2 separate regions of the Homo sapiens genome follow, and region 1 is linked to region 2. The links come from fine-mapping of genetic effects on gene expression. A gene starts in region 2. The other region holds a variant in brackets. All regions are shown on one strand. Distances are from middle to middle. Region 1 overlaps WAKMAR2 (wound and keratinocyte migration associated lncRNA 2). Region 2 holds the start of WAKMAR2 (wound and keratinocyte migration associated lncRNA 2).

The links. PIP is the estimated chance that this variant, and not a neighbour inherited with it, causes the effect. A credible set is the group of variants that fine-mapping cannot tell apart.
Region 1: its variant is the best candidate, but not a certain one, in a credible set for the expression of WAKMAR2 in sun-exposed skin (GTEx, PIP 0.62).

Annotation. Positions count from the first base shown.
Region 1 is chr6:137,822,829-137,828,205 of GRCh38, forward strand. It overlaps WAKMAR2 (wound and keratinocyte migration associated lncRNA 2), which reads right to left. Exons shown (of 4, transcript NR_049793.1): 4 at 841-1,749. Among named protein-coding and RNA genes, the nearest start is that of TNFAIP3, 42 kb to the right of the region's middle. RefSeq lists enhancers at 5,174-5,303, 5,324-5,373. The variant C/T (reference allele first, on the strand shown) is at 3,083.
Region 2 is chr6:137,865,065-137,870,441 of GRCh38, forward strand. It overlaps WAKMAR2 (wound and keratinocyte migration associated lncRNA 2), which reads right to left and starts at 3,169. Exons shown (of 4, transcript NR_049793.1): 1 at 2,578-3,169; 2 at 1,519-1,820; 3 at 95-256. It overlaps TNFAIP3 (TNF alpha induced protein 3), which reads left to right and starts at 2,195. Exons shown (of 9, transcript NM_001270508.2): 1 at 2,195-2,478. RefSeq lists an enhancer at 1,732-1,871 and silencers at 1,952-2,091, 2,332-2,501, 2,642-2,741.

The DNA of each region.
Region 1 (5,377 bases), 42 kb before region 2:
CGCTTCAACCCAGGAGGCGGAGGTTGCAGTGAGCCGAGGTCACACCACTGCACTCCAGCCTGGGAGACAGAGTGAGACTCTGTCTCAAAACAAAACAAAACAAAACAAAAACCAAAAACATTGGTTAGTGTAGCCAAGAAAGATTTTTGACTTAAAAAATAAATCTGTTATCCATGCAGTGTGTTGATGAAAAAAAGAAGATAGTATGTGTTACAAATAAGATAAATATTACATAACCATTTGTAAGATTATTTATGAAGAGTTTGTAATGATGTGGGAAAGAGGTTATGATATAAAGTTAAGCAAAAGAAAAAGTAAATGCCAATTATAAAAATAGTATATTGTTAGCTTTGCTTAAACATATATACGCACACACTATCCGCAAAAAGCAGGAATATACTTCACTCTGTAAGTGGTGGTTATCTCTGAGTGACATTTTACAGGATGTTCCCCTGCTTTTTTTTTACTGTAATGTACATTCCAAATTATTAGATTAGTATATTTACTTTTACAAATGGTGATTATACATTTTAATAGTTTCAGAATGTTAAGATCTTAAGAGACTAAGCTTAGTTCTATAGCTAGCACATAGTAGCATTGCATAAATATTATTCAATCAATTAATGAAGTCATCACTTCATCGCAAGAGTGTACACAAAGTATTAGAACTATTAAAATGTTTGTGTGTGCACCAGCCCCATCAATTCTGAACAACGCCCTATGCCCTATCTGTCATAATTATATATTCTTATTTTTGGGGTCCTCACTCCTTAAAGCAACATTGTTGTTTCCTTCATTGCTTCTCCCCAAGCACAGAAGCAAAAAAAAAAAAAGAGATCATTTATTGTTTTAAAACCTTCATTTATTTTGGGATGTCACTACCAATTTTTCAGGCCTTAGACATGTAAGCATGCATTTCTACTTTTTTAGATTTTGAATCATGTAGAAATCTAGCCAAATTAATTGAGAATACTCTATTGAATAAATCAACAACTTTACTTCCAGGGTCCTGTTAACCTAAGCTAAAGATAAAAAAGCAGCAACAAAGTGCCACTGTTATCTGGTTAAAACTGACAACTGTAAGATGTATGGATGATTTTCTACAAGTTTAGAAACAGGAAACAGTGCTTGCTGCACTTGCCACAGGGCATATAAACTGAGAAAGTTATGTAGAAATTCAAGATCAGAGGATGAGCGCAAGGATGATCTTTGAGAACAAAACAGTGAACAGAGCCCTTTGTGGTGGCAAGCAGTGACGTGAGGTTGTGTTTATGTGAATACAAACCCTCTCCTCCCAAGTCTGGTGACTACAGTGTTTTCTTCCCACCTCGTTGTTAATTGTGGAAATCTGGCTGTCACTATTAACATATCAAACAGAGGTCTTGATATTATCTGCAGCTGATCATTTGTTTAGGTTTTACCCGCAGGAAAAGTCTGGTGGCAGCCAGTCCCAGGACAGCCACGCATGACGCACAGAAGAGTCCTTATAGTTCCCCTGGAGGGGGTGATGATGCAGGCAAATGCCACGCCTGATCCCTTTGGGTCTCCGTGGCAACAAGGCTGCTTGTCAGACTAGATGATAATGAGCCATGATCTGGAAGAGGCTTATTCCATAACAGGAGGGAGGTTTCAAAGGTAACACGTCAACAGCAATGCCTCGGCAACAGCTGTTTGTTATTGTAGTCGTCAAGGACAGAAAAAGGACAAGGCTGCCAGAAGATGTTGCATATGGAACAGAAGATTCTTGCCCTGGAAGAAGGAATAGAGGAGATGTAAATATCCCTTCTTTCTTGGGGGAAGGAAATAGATGAACTGTATGCTAAGTTAGAGCCTCTCTTTATCTATAAATGATCTGTTGGTTAAACAGGATACCTCCCTTCTGAACATCTCAGCACCCCATCAAGAGAACTTCAGGTCTCTGCCATTTAGACGTGTCATTTGTAAGTAAAATAAATCAGGGAAGTAATAGGAGGAAAGCTAAGAATGAAAGGAATTCATCACCACTGCAAATTTGTCCCTGAAGCAAGGTGAGTCCCTGCCCATCTGGCTACACCAGCTCTTTTTTTTTTTTTTTTTTTTTTTTTTTTTTGGCCCTTACTAGACCCCACTTGGGATTTTGTTGGCATATTTGCTTGGATGTCTATCTCCTCTGTAGTTCCTGAGGTCAAGATTACAGTCTCTTTTTTTTTTTTTTTAGTTTTTGTATCTATGGTGCCTGGCAAAGAAAAGAAGCTCCATCAATATTTACCAGTTGCTGGTGGCAATGGTAATGGTAGTTGTGTAGAAGGTGGGAAGGATAGAAGTATAGCTAAGTGACGGGACATTCTATTTCTACACCTTGTTTAGCTATGGAGGTCTCTGGAACTAGCCAGGCTAGCCAAGACTGGGACTTCTTGTGTCTTCTCCAAGAGAGGCAGAATGAGCCTAATGGTTTAGAACGTGGGCTCTGGAGCCAGACAAGCCAGATTAGAATCCTGACTCTACTCCAAGCAGTGTGAGCTTTGGCAAGTTACATACCCCATCTGTGCCTCTGTGAGGATGAAACGAGTTCCTTAGAATGATGCCTGGTACCCCAGAGGAGCTATTCAGGTTCAATTGACTCTGTTTCTAGTATTACTGCTCAACTTAGGAAGAAAAGAAGTGCAGAAGAGGAGAGGCTTTTGCTTCAAATTTTGAGTTTCACATTTAACCTTGCAGTTTTATCCCTGGGGAGCTTCTGCCTGGATGGAGGATGAATCTGGTATCTAAGCTCCTCCTTAGGGCTGTCATTTAGACCAGTGCCAATCCCTAGGAGTGCTTCTGATTTCCTGCTTATCTCCTACAAATGTACAGTTAAGTCAATTCAAAAGAAAAGATAAATGGTCCAAACAAATCCATTGTAGCATACTGTAATTCACTGTCCATGGGGCAATTCATTTGCCCTTGAATTATTATTATCTTCCTTACCTGATGTGCTTGACACTTATGATCTTGAACCATGCTGGGCACCATGGCAAATTTTGATATTTGATATCAAATATCAAAATATTTGATATTTTTTCCTTGATGCTTTTGAAGACACCTCCTCCATAACCACGATCAG[C/T]GACCAACACTCAAAAGGCTGAGGGGAACTGAAGCCAAGTTAGGGAAACAATGTAAATGCCTGGCTGGTTAACACGTGGATATCCAAAGAGTTGTTGGGTCTTCTCACCTCTACCCTCATCTGCCGTGAGCACACAGTGCTCCACGGATATATTCAAACTTGAATCAGGCCAGGCACGGTGGCTCATGCCTGTAATCCCAGCACTTTGGGAGCCCAAGGCGGGCGGATCACAAGGACAGGAGATTGAGACCATCCTGGCTAACATGGTGAAACCCGGTCTCTACTAAAAATACAAAAAATTAGCCCCGCATGGTGGCAGGTGCCTGTAGTCCCAGCTACTCGGGAGGCTGAGGCAGGAGAATGGCGTGAACCCGGGAGGCGGAGCTTGCAGTGAGCCGAGATTGTGCCACTGCACCCCAGCCTGGGCGACAGAGCAAGACTTCGTCTCAAAAACAAAACAAAACAAAACAAAACAAAACAAAAAAACCTGAATCAATAAGTGAGGAATTTTATGAAATGCACTCTTGAAGCCAATGAAATAAGGTCATCCATAACTATAAACCAGCAGCTAAATATTACGTAAGCATGGGACTTGGACTCTATTTCATTTAGACCACCTGAAGCAGGTTCTCTTGGAACTGCAAAACAAAAGAAGAGAGAGAAAGAAAGACCACCATTGTGATGGTTTCCAGATAGGCCTAATCAAAAGGTTGAAAATTTCTACCAAGAATATTAAGTCATTACAGCAGGTACCTTTTCTAATTAAAATTGTATTCCCACTGCATGGCTGCATCCTAATAAACTGAGAGGCATCAGCTAGCTACCTTATCTTTCATACCAGCTGTAAGTATGCTGATATACATATGTATATTATATTTGTATTATGTATAATATCTATATGCTATATGTATATATAAAGTATAGCCCTTAAAAATTATTTCAAAGTCACACAATCATCTGAGTCACACAAGCACATAGAAAAAGAGATAAAGGTATGTTATGTAACTCACCTCCTGTATCCAGATAAGTCTTCAGTCAAACAAATACAATTATTTGATATTTTTTCCTTGATGCTTTTGAAGACACCTCCTCCATAACCACAATCAGGAACGGTCTGTATTTCAGCAGTCAGGAAGTTCTTTTTTTTTTTTTTTTTTTTTTTTTTTTTTCAAATAAACTGCTTATCTTAGAATGGTTTTAAAATTACAGAATTAATGTAATTAGTGCAGTAATGTAATTAGTGCAGTAATGGTACAGAGCGCTCCCTACCTAATACTGAGTTTCCCCTATTGTTAACATATTACATTAATATGGTACCTTTGTCATGACCAATGAATCAGTATTGATACATTATTTCCTCAGCTTTTCCCTAATGTCTTTTTTCCTTTTTCTTTTTTGAGATGGAGTCTCACTCTGTTGCCCAGGCTGGAGTGCAGTGGCACGATCTCGGCTCACTGCAGCCTCCACCTCCTGGGTTTAAGTGATTCTTCTGCCTCAGCCTCCCAAGTAGCTGGGATCACAGGCGCCCGCCAATACACCCAGCTAATTTTCGTATTTTTAGCAGAGATGGGGTTTCACCATCTTGGCCAGGCTGGTTTCAAACTCCTTACCTCAAGTGATCTGCTTGCCTCAGCCTCCTAAAGTGCTGGGATTACAGGTGTGAGTCACCGTGCCCTGCCCCTAATGTGCTTTTTCTATTCCAGGATTCCATGCAGGATACCACATTGTATTTAGTAGTCATGTCTCCTTAGGCTCCTCTTAGCTGTGGCAGTTTCTTAGACTTTCCTTGGCTTTGCTGACCTTGATAGTTTTGAGGATTACTGGTCAGGTATGTTGTAGAATGTCCTTCCATTGGGTTTTGTCTGATGTTTTACTCATGATTAGACTGAGTTAATGCATTTAATGGGAGGGAGACCACAGAGGCAAAGTGCCATTCTCATTATATCATATCATCAAGGGTGCACACTATCAATCGCTTGCCAATGTTAGGGAGTTGTTTTTAAGGTCAAAAGTAAATTCCTATTGTTAAAGCAGTGGTTCTCAAAGTGTGGTCCCCCAGATCAGCAGTGTCAGCATCACCTGGAACTTGTTAAAAATGCAAATTCTTGGCTTTATCACAGGCCTACTAAATCAGAAACTCTGGGGGTGGAGCCCAGTGATCTGTCTGAACAAGCCTAGGTGATTCTGATGCAGCTGAAGTTTAAGAACTGCCGTGTTCGTGGTTGTCTAACATGTTTGGCCTCAATGTATAAAAAGAGTTCTCCTCAGTGCCCATCTATTAAGCCAGTGGTTCTC
Region 2 (5,377 bases):
GTGGCAATTCACAAGCCCAGCAGTAGAATCATGGAAAGTGGAGTTCGAACATAATCCAGGGCTATAGACCACTCCTGCATCTGACTGCTATTACCTTGTCACAAATCCTGGCAGGCAAGATGACAAAGCAGTTACATCAGGACAGTTGGCAGTGGCAGGTATGAACGTGGCCCCTCAGGCTTGTCACTCCTCTTTACTGCACTCCCAGTTCATGACACCAGACAGCAAGACATGAGCCAGATAGGGGCAGTGGAAGCTGCAGGAGGATTGAAGTCATGGAGCCAGAGATGAGAGGAAACAGGCCAACTCTGTTTACAAAGGAGCACCAGCAGGAGAGTGGTGTGAGGATTAACATTCCATGCAGGGTCTTTCAGATACATGATCTTCTTCTGCCAGCTCAACTGAAACCCAGGAGGTTTCCTGAAGGTGAAACCAAGACCCTTCTACCTCTGAAGCCGCATTCTGTCTAAGGTCCGTGTTTGGCTGTTTTGAGAGGCTGGGAGACAGGACACCAAAAGAGTACCTGTCTCACAGGATCTTTCCTGAGAGGAATGGTCTAGTAAGACTGGTCATTATGGGCTTTGGAGTAACACAGGCTTAATGCCACTGGCGACTCTGCCCCTTTTGGTTGTGGAAACTGGGCAAATGCCTCAAGCTTCTTAACCTTCATATAAAAAGCATATATAAGCATATAGCAAGTACTTGATAAATGTCATTTTAGACCCTGTCATTTCTGCTAGCCCTGGACTCCAGCAAGGTCCATTTACAATGGATAGCTGACTATCCATTGTTTGAATGTTGATAGCACATTTGTGAACAAGAAGAGAGGACAAATAACAAGAGGTTTGGAACTGGAAGAAATTCCAGCCATCGGTTTTAAAAGACGAGGACCAGTCTTCAGAGAGGCCACTAGTGACACTCTGCTCCAAACTTCTTTTTGCCAAAAAAGTGCCACCCTCCATCCAGCCCCCACCCCCATCTCTGCAAGTCCTTACTGGCGAGAGGAGGATACTTTTCTAATTAAAAACCTGTGATATATGGCCTGACAAGTATTCTTAAATGTAATTAAGGGGACCATAGTACAGAATATTTCCATCCGGTTCTAGTTTAGCCAATCTAGTAAATGATCCAAAGGGTCCCGTGCTTAGAGGGCAGTAAGACAGTAAAAACGCCCTAAGACTCCTCCCTGCACAGCACCTGCACCCCCACTGCCCAGGGGGCTGCATCCATCTCCACATGACTCACCCTCCCTGTGCAACGCATGGGGGTAGGGAGGGAAGCGCCAGTATTATCAGCCATCAGCACCCTGGGGTGAACTGATTATCAGGACAACTAAAAACACACCTAATAAAGCCTTGGAGACACATGGCAAGCACCGTGATGGACTAGAAGCGATTTCTAAGCTGAAATGCTGCTTTGAATGCAATGTCAGCTGGATGCTTGGTGAGCAGAAATAGACAAGGGGAAATGGAGCAAGCGCGGCATAGGGGTGAGTGTTGTTCTGATTCCTAAGTTTACCTAAGACTGGGGCCACGGGGTCGGGTGTCCCCTGGGACCTACGTCTCATGCAGCCTGGGGTCCAGAGCTGGCAGGAACAATGGAGATGGGGACCAAAGGCTGTCACCGCTGCTTTTTCTCGAAATGCCCGCCCGGGTCCTGTCTGGGGCTCCCGCCTACGCGCTCATCACGTGCACAGCCCAAACTTTTCAGAGCCGGCCCGAGGCCTGCGGGCCCGGGCGCCAGGGTGGTTTTTAGGGTTTTCTTTCTTTCTTATTTCCCTTCTTCTTCTCCACAGTTGATGATTTTCTGCAGAAAAACAACTGCGAAAAAGAACCTATTTCATTTCCAGTTCCCATCACCGCGATTTCCACATGGATGTGACGTGACCCCAGCTTCCGAAATGCCCAGGTGACTCACGCGGGGACACCCCGGGGCGGGGCGAGGGAGTTTCTCCGGGCGCCTGCAGGGACCGGGCGGGGCGGGGCAGCGGGGCGGGGCAGGGAAAGGGGGCGGGGCGGGGCCCGCAGGCCCGGTCGGGCGGAGGCCGCGCGCGCCCCTCGCCCCCTGCGCCCTCTGGCGGCCGGCTGGACGCACTTCGCAGCCCGACCCAGAGAGTCACGTGACTTTGGAAAGTCCCGTGGAAATCCCCGGGCCTACAACCCGCATACAACTGAAACGGGGCAAAGCAGACTGCGCAGTCTGCAGTCTTCGTGGCGGGCCAAGCGAGCTTGGAGCCCGCGGGGGCGGAGCGGTGAGAGCGGCCGCCAAGAGAGATCACACCCCCAGCCGACCCTGCCAGCGAGCGAGCCCGACCCCAGGCGTCCATGGAGCGTCGCCTCCGCCCGGTCCCTGCCCCGACCCCCGCCTGCGGCGCGCTCCTGCCTTGACCAGGACTTGGGACTTTGCGAAAGGATCGCGGGGCCCGGAGAGGTAACCGCCGCGCCTCCCGGAGAGGTAACCGCCGCGCCTCCCGGAGAGGTAACCGCCGCGCCTCCCCGTGCCGTCTGCCTCGGGCTCACCGCAGTCAAGGGCTGCGGGTGCATGTTGGGCAGCGACCCCCGGGCTGGCACCGTCTACCTGGCGTTGGTTTTGCAGCGCTCCTGGACTGGGAGTTTGTTGGACGTTTCTGTCTGGGTTTTGAAGTGCTGGGAGTTGAGGTCACTGCTGCAGAGGTTGGAGTGACAGCCCTGGATACCTCCAGCCAGCTGTTCCTTTCAGATAATGCACGGAACTTAAGCTGCAGCTGACTGGTGAAGAGGCGCCCCTCGGGCCCTCCGATCGGGTGGTCGTTGGCGCTTTGCTCCTTTCGTGTCTTTTTTGGAGCCAAGCGTTGCATGCTCATGGCCACGTAGACCTTGCAGAAGCGCTGCGGCTTTTTCCCAAATTGTGCAGGACCAGCCCGACGGGGCGTAGGGTACCGCAGTGGCCGCCAGCCCGGCGGAGGTGGGGGGCTTCAGTCCCAGAGACAGCTTCCCAGACGCTCACGGGTCCTTGCAGGGGGCTGGGGTCCTGGCGCGGGGTTCAGCTTTTCCAGTAGCAGCAGTGTAAGAGAAGTATGCATGTAGACGTGGGTCGCTGGCCCCTGCTCCAGCCCCTACCCCACGGTTAGACTGTCTTTGTCAGCTGGAGTCGTCCCACATCCTGCCACCTGGCCTCTCAGAAAAGCAGTGGCATTAAGTAAGGAAGGAGCTTAACTCTTTTTGAGCCCGCTTTGTTTTCGGTTCTCCTCGCCTCAGATCTTCTTGCCTTGGAAAGCCAGTCTGGTCAAGTGTCTCAGGGTAGCATTTTGGCAGAACCATTGTTAATTAAAGGGACTTCTGGACCGCAACCTTAATGTACCAGATTATTGAGCAGCCAATGAATGCTTCATTCTCATTGTTTAAGGTGCTGCTTTGATTTTTTTTTCAATTCTTTGTACTATTTTTGATTTTTTGGAGAGGCACATCCCCAAATTTGGATGAGGTATTTGTTGATAAATAATTCATCAATTTCCACAATGCAGACAAAAATGTCTGCCCAGAGTGGAAAAATAAAACAAGGGGGAGAAGAGTTTGAGTAACGGAGAAGTTCTGTGGAATCCTAGTGACAAAAGTTGAGAAACTACCTTTAAATAAGACAGTGAGGTAACAAATGTTAAAAAAAAAAAAGTTAAGGGTAATATTGCATTGTTTGCCACTTATAACGTATCTGAAACATTTGTTCTTTAATCTTAAGCGTAGAGTGGTCCAAGACCTGGAAATCTGGGCAGTGGGTTTTGATTTCTAAGGAGGCAGTTTTACAGGCTGTGCAAGGCTAACCCTACCAATGAGATCACACTGGCGTATCCGATATTGACATTTGCATGTCTTGCCTATGGTTTACAGCTCTCACTATTTTAGATCTTTGGTGAAAAATCTTTAGATTCAGAAGAGAAAAATAAAAGAGTCAGGCAAGCAAAAAGAGATAACACCTCATTTGTTTAAAATCTTCCTACTGCCCATCTCTTTCCATCTGATTGTGGCAGGCACTGTAGCCACAGGTTTGGTGTTGTGGGATTGCAAGGGGCAGGTATTGAAAGACCTGGCTCCTAGGCAAAACTTTGCCCCTGAATGGCTGTGGGATCTGAGCAGTACCTGTAACTCCATTGCCTTAGCTGCAGACTAAGGTGGTAGTGTAATTTCAGGGAAGGGAATAAGGTCATCTTTGACTTTTAGTCCCATCATCAAGCATGGTGATTGGCCTTCAGTAGGTGGTCAGGTAGTGCTTGTTGGGTGGATGGGTGGATGGATGGATAGATGGATGGATGGATGGATGGATGGATGGATGGATGGATGGACGGACGGACGGACGGACGGATAGATGATATTGTGAAAGAGACTTTTGCTGTGCCACAAAGGAAAGGTATATGTGTTATTTTTATCCTGCTATGATTTTGCCCAATTCCACCTGTAGAGGACGTCTGACATCAAAAGAGAGCACCATCTGATCCAGAGAATGACTCCCACTATGCCTTTCCCAGCAATCAGATTAAGAATCCCAATCTAAAACTATCACCAGAAAACTCCTCAGGAGAAACCATGGGTCATCTAGTCCAACCTCTCTCCTTTGAGTGGGCCACAAGAATTATCTCAACACCTTATCAATGGTGTTGAGAGTCTAGACCCACACAGAAGTAGCTACCCTAAAATCTAGGTTTCTTCTCCTCCCTCTTCCATAGGTTTAACATTTTTATTAACTGGAAAGTTGCCCTGGCAAATAAGATGTTGCAGGAATGGAATTAACAATCACTGTGAAATTTCCTAGGGAATGTCTTTGTGCTCTGAAAACTTCTTCATCTTCTTGGAAATTAGGAAGTGTGGCCAGACACCCTACTAAGGGCTAGTAAATCACAGCTGGCTTTTTACAGTGTTCCACACTGGAGAGATCCTACATCATGTTAATTTGCATCATCCTGCGCTGTTGGCATGGGTTGTAGATGCTGGTCTTTGCCACCTTTCCTCCTTCATTTGCCAGAGTGGCCTCCTGGTGGAAACTTCTTTCCTTGTCTACTTCTAGATTTTCATTCCTTCTACTAGTTGATTATGCTTAAAGATTTCAGGGTGAAAAGCCAGGCAGACTTGCCTCTGTGTTGGTACCTGGAGGGTGATGATAAAATTTCATTGGCAGTTGAGTTAAAATGATTGAGCTCCAATATCTGTTCTTAGAAGTATAGAATTTATTGTTCTATTATTATTTTGCGGTTTTTCATTTTTTGTTTTCGTAGAGACCTAGGTCTCACCGTGTTGCCCAGGCTAGTCTCAAACTCCTGAGCTTAAGTGATCCTCCTCCCTCGACCTCCCAAAGTGCCAGGATTAAAGGCATGAGCCACCATGCCTAGCCTATTGTTAGTCTGTTTCTT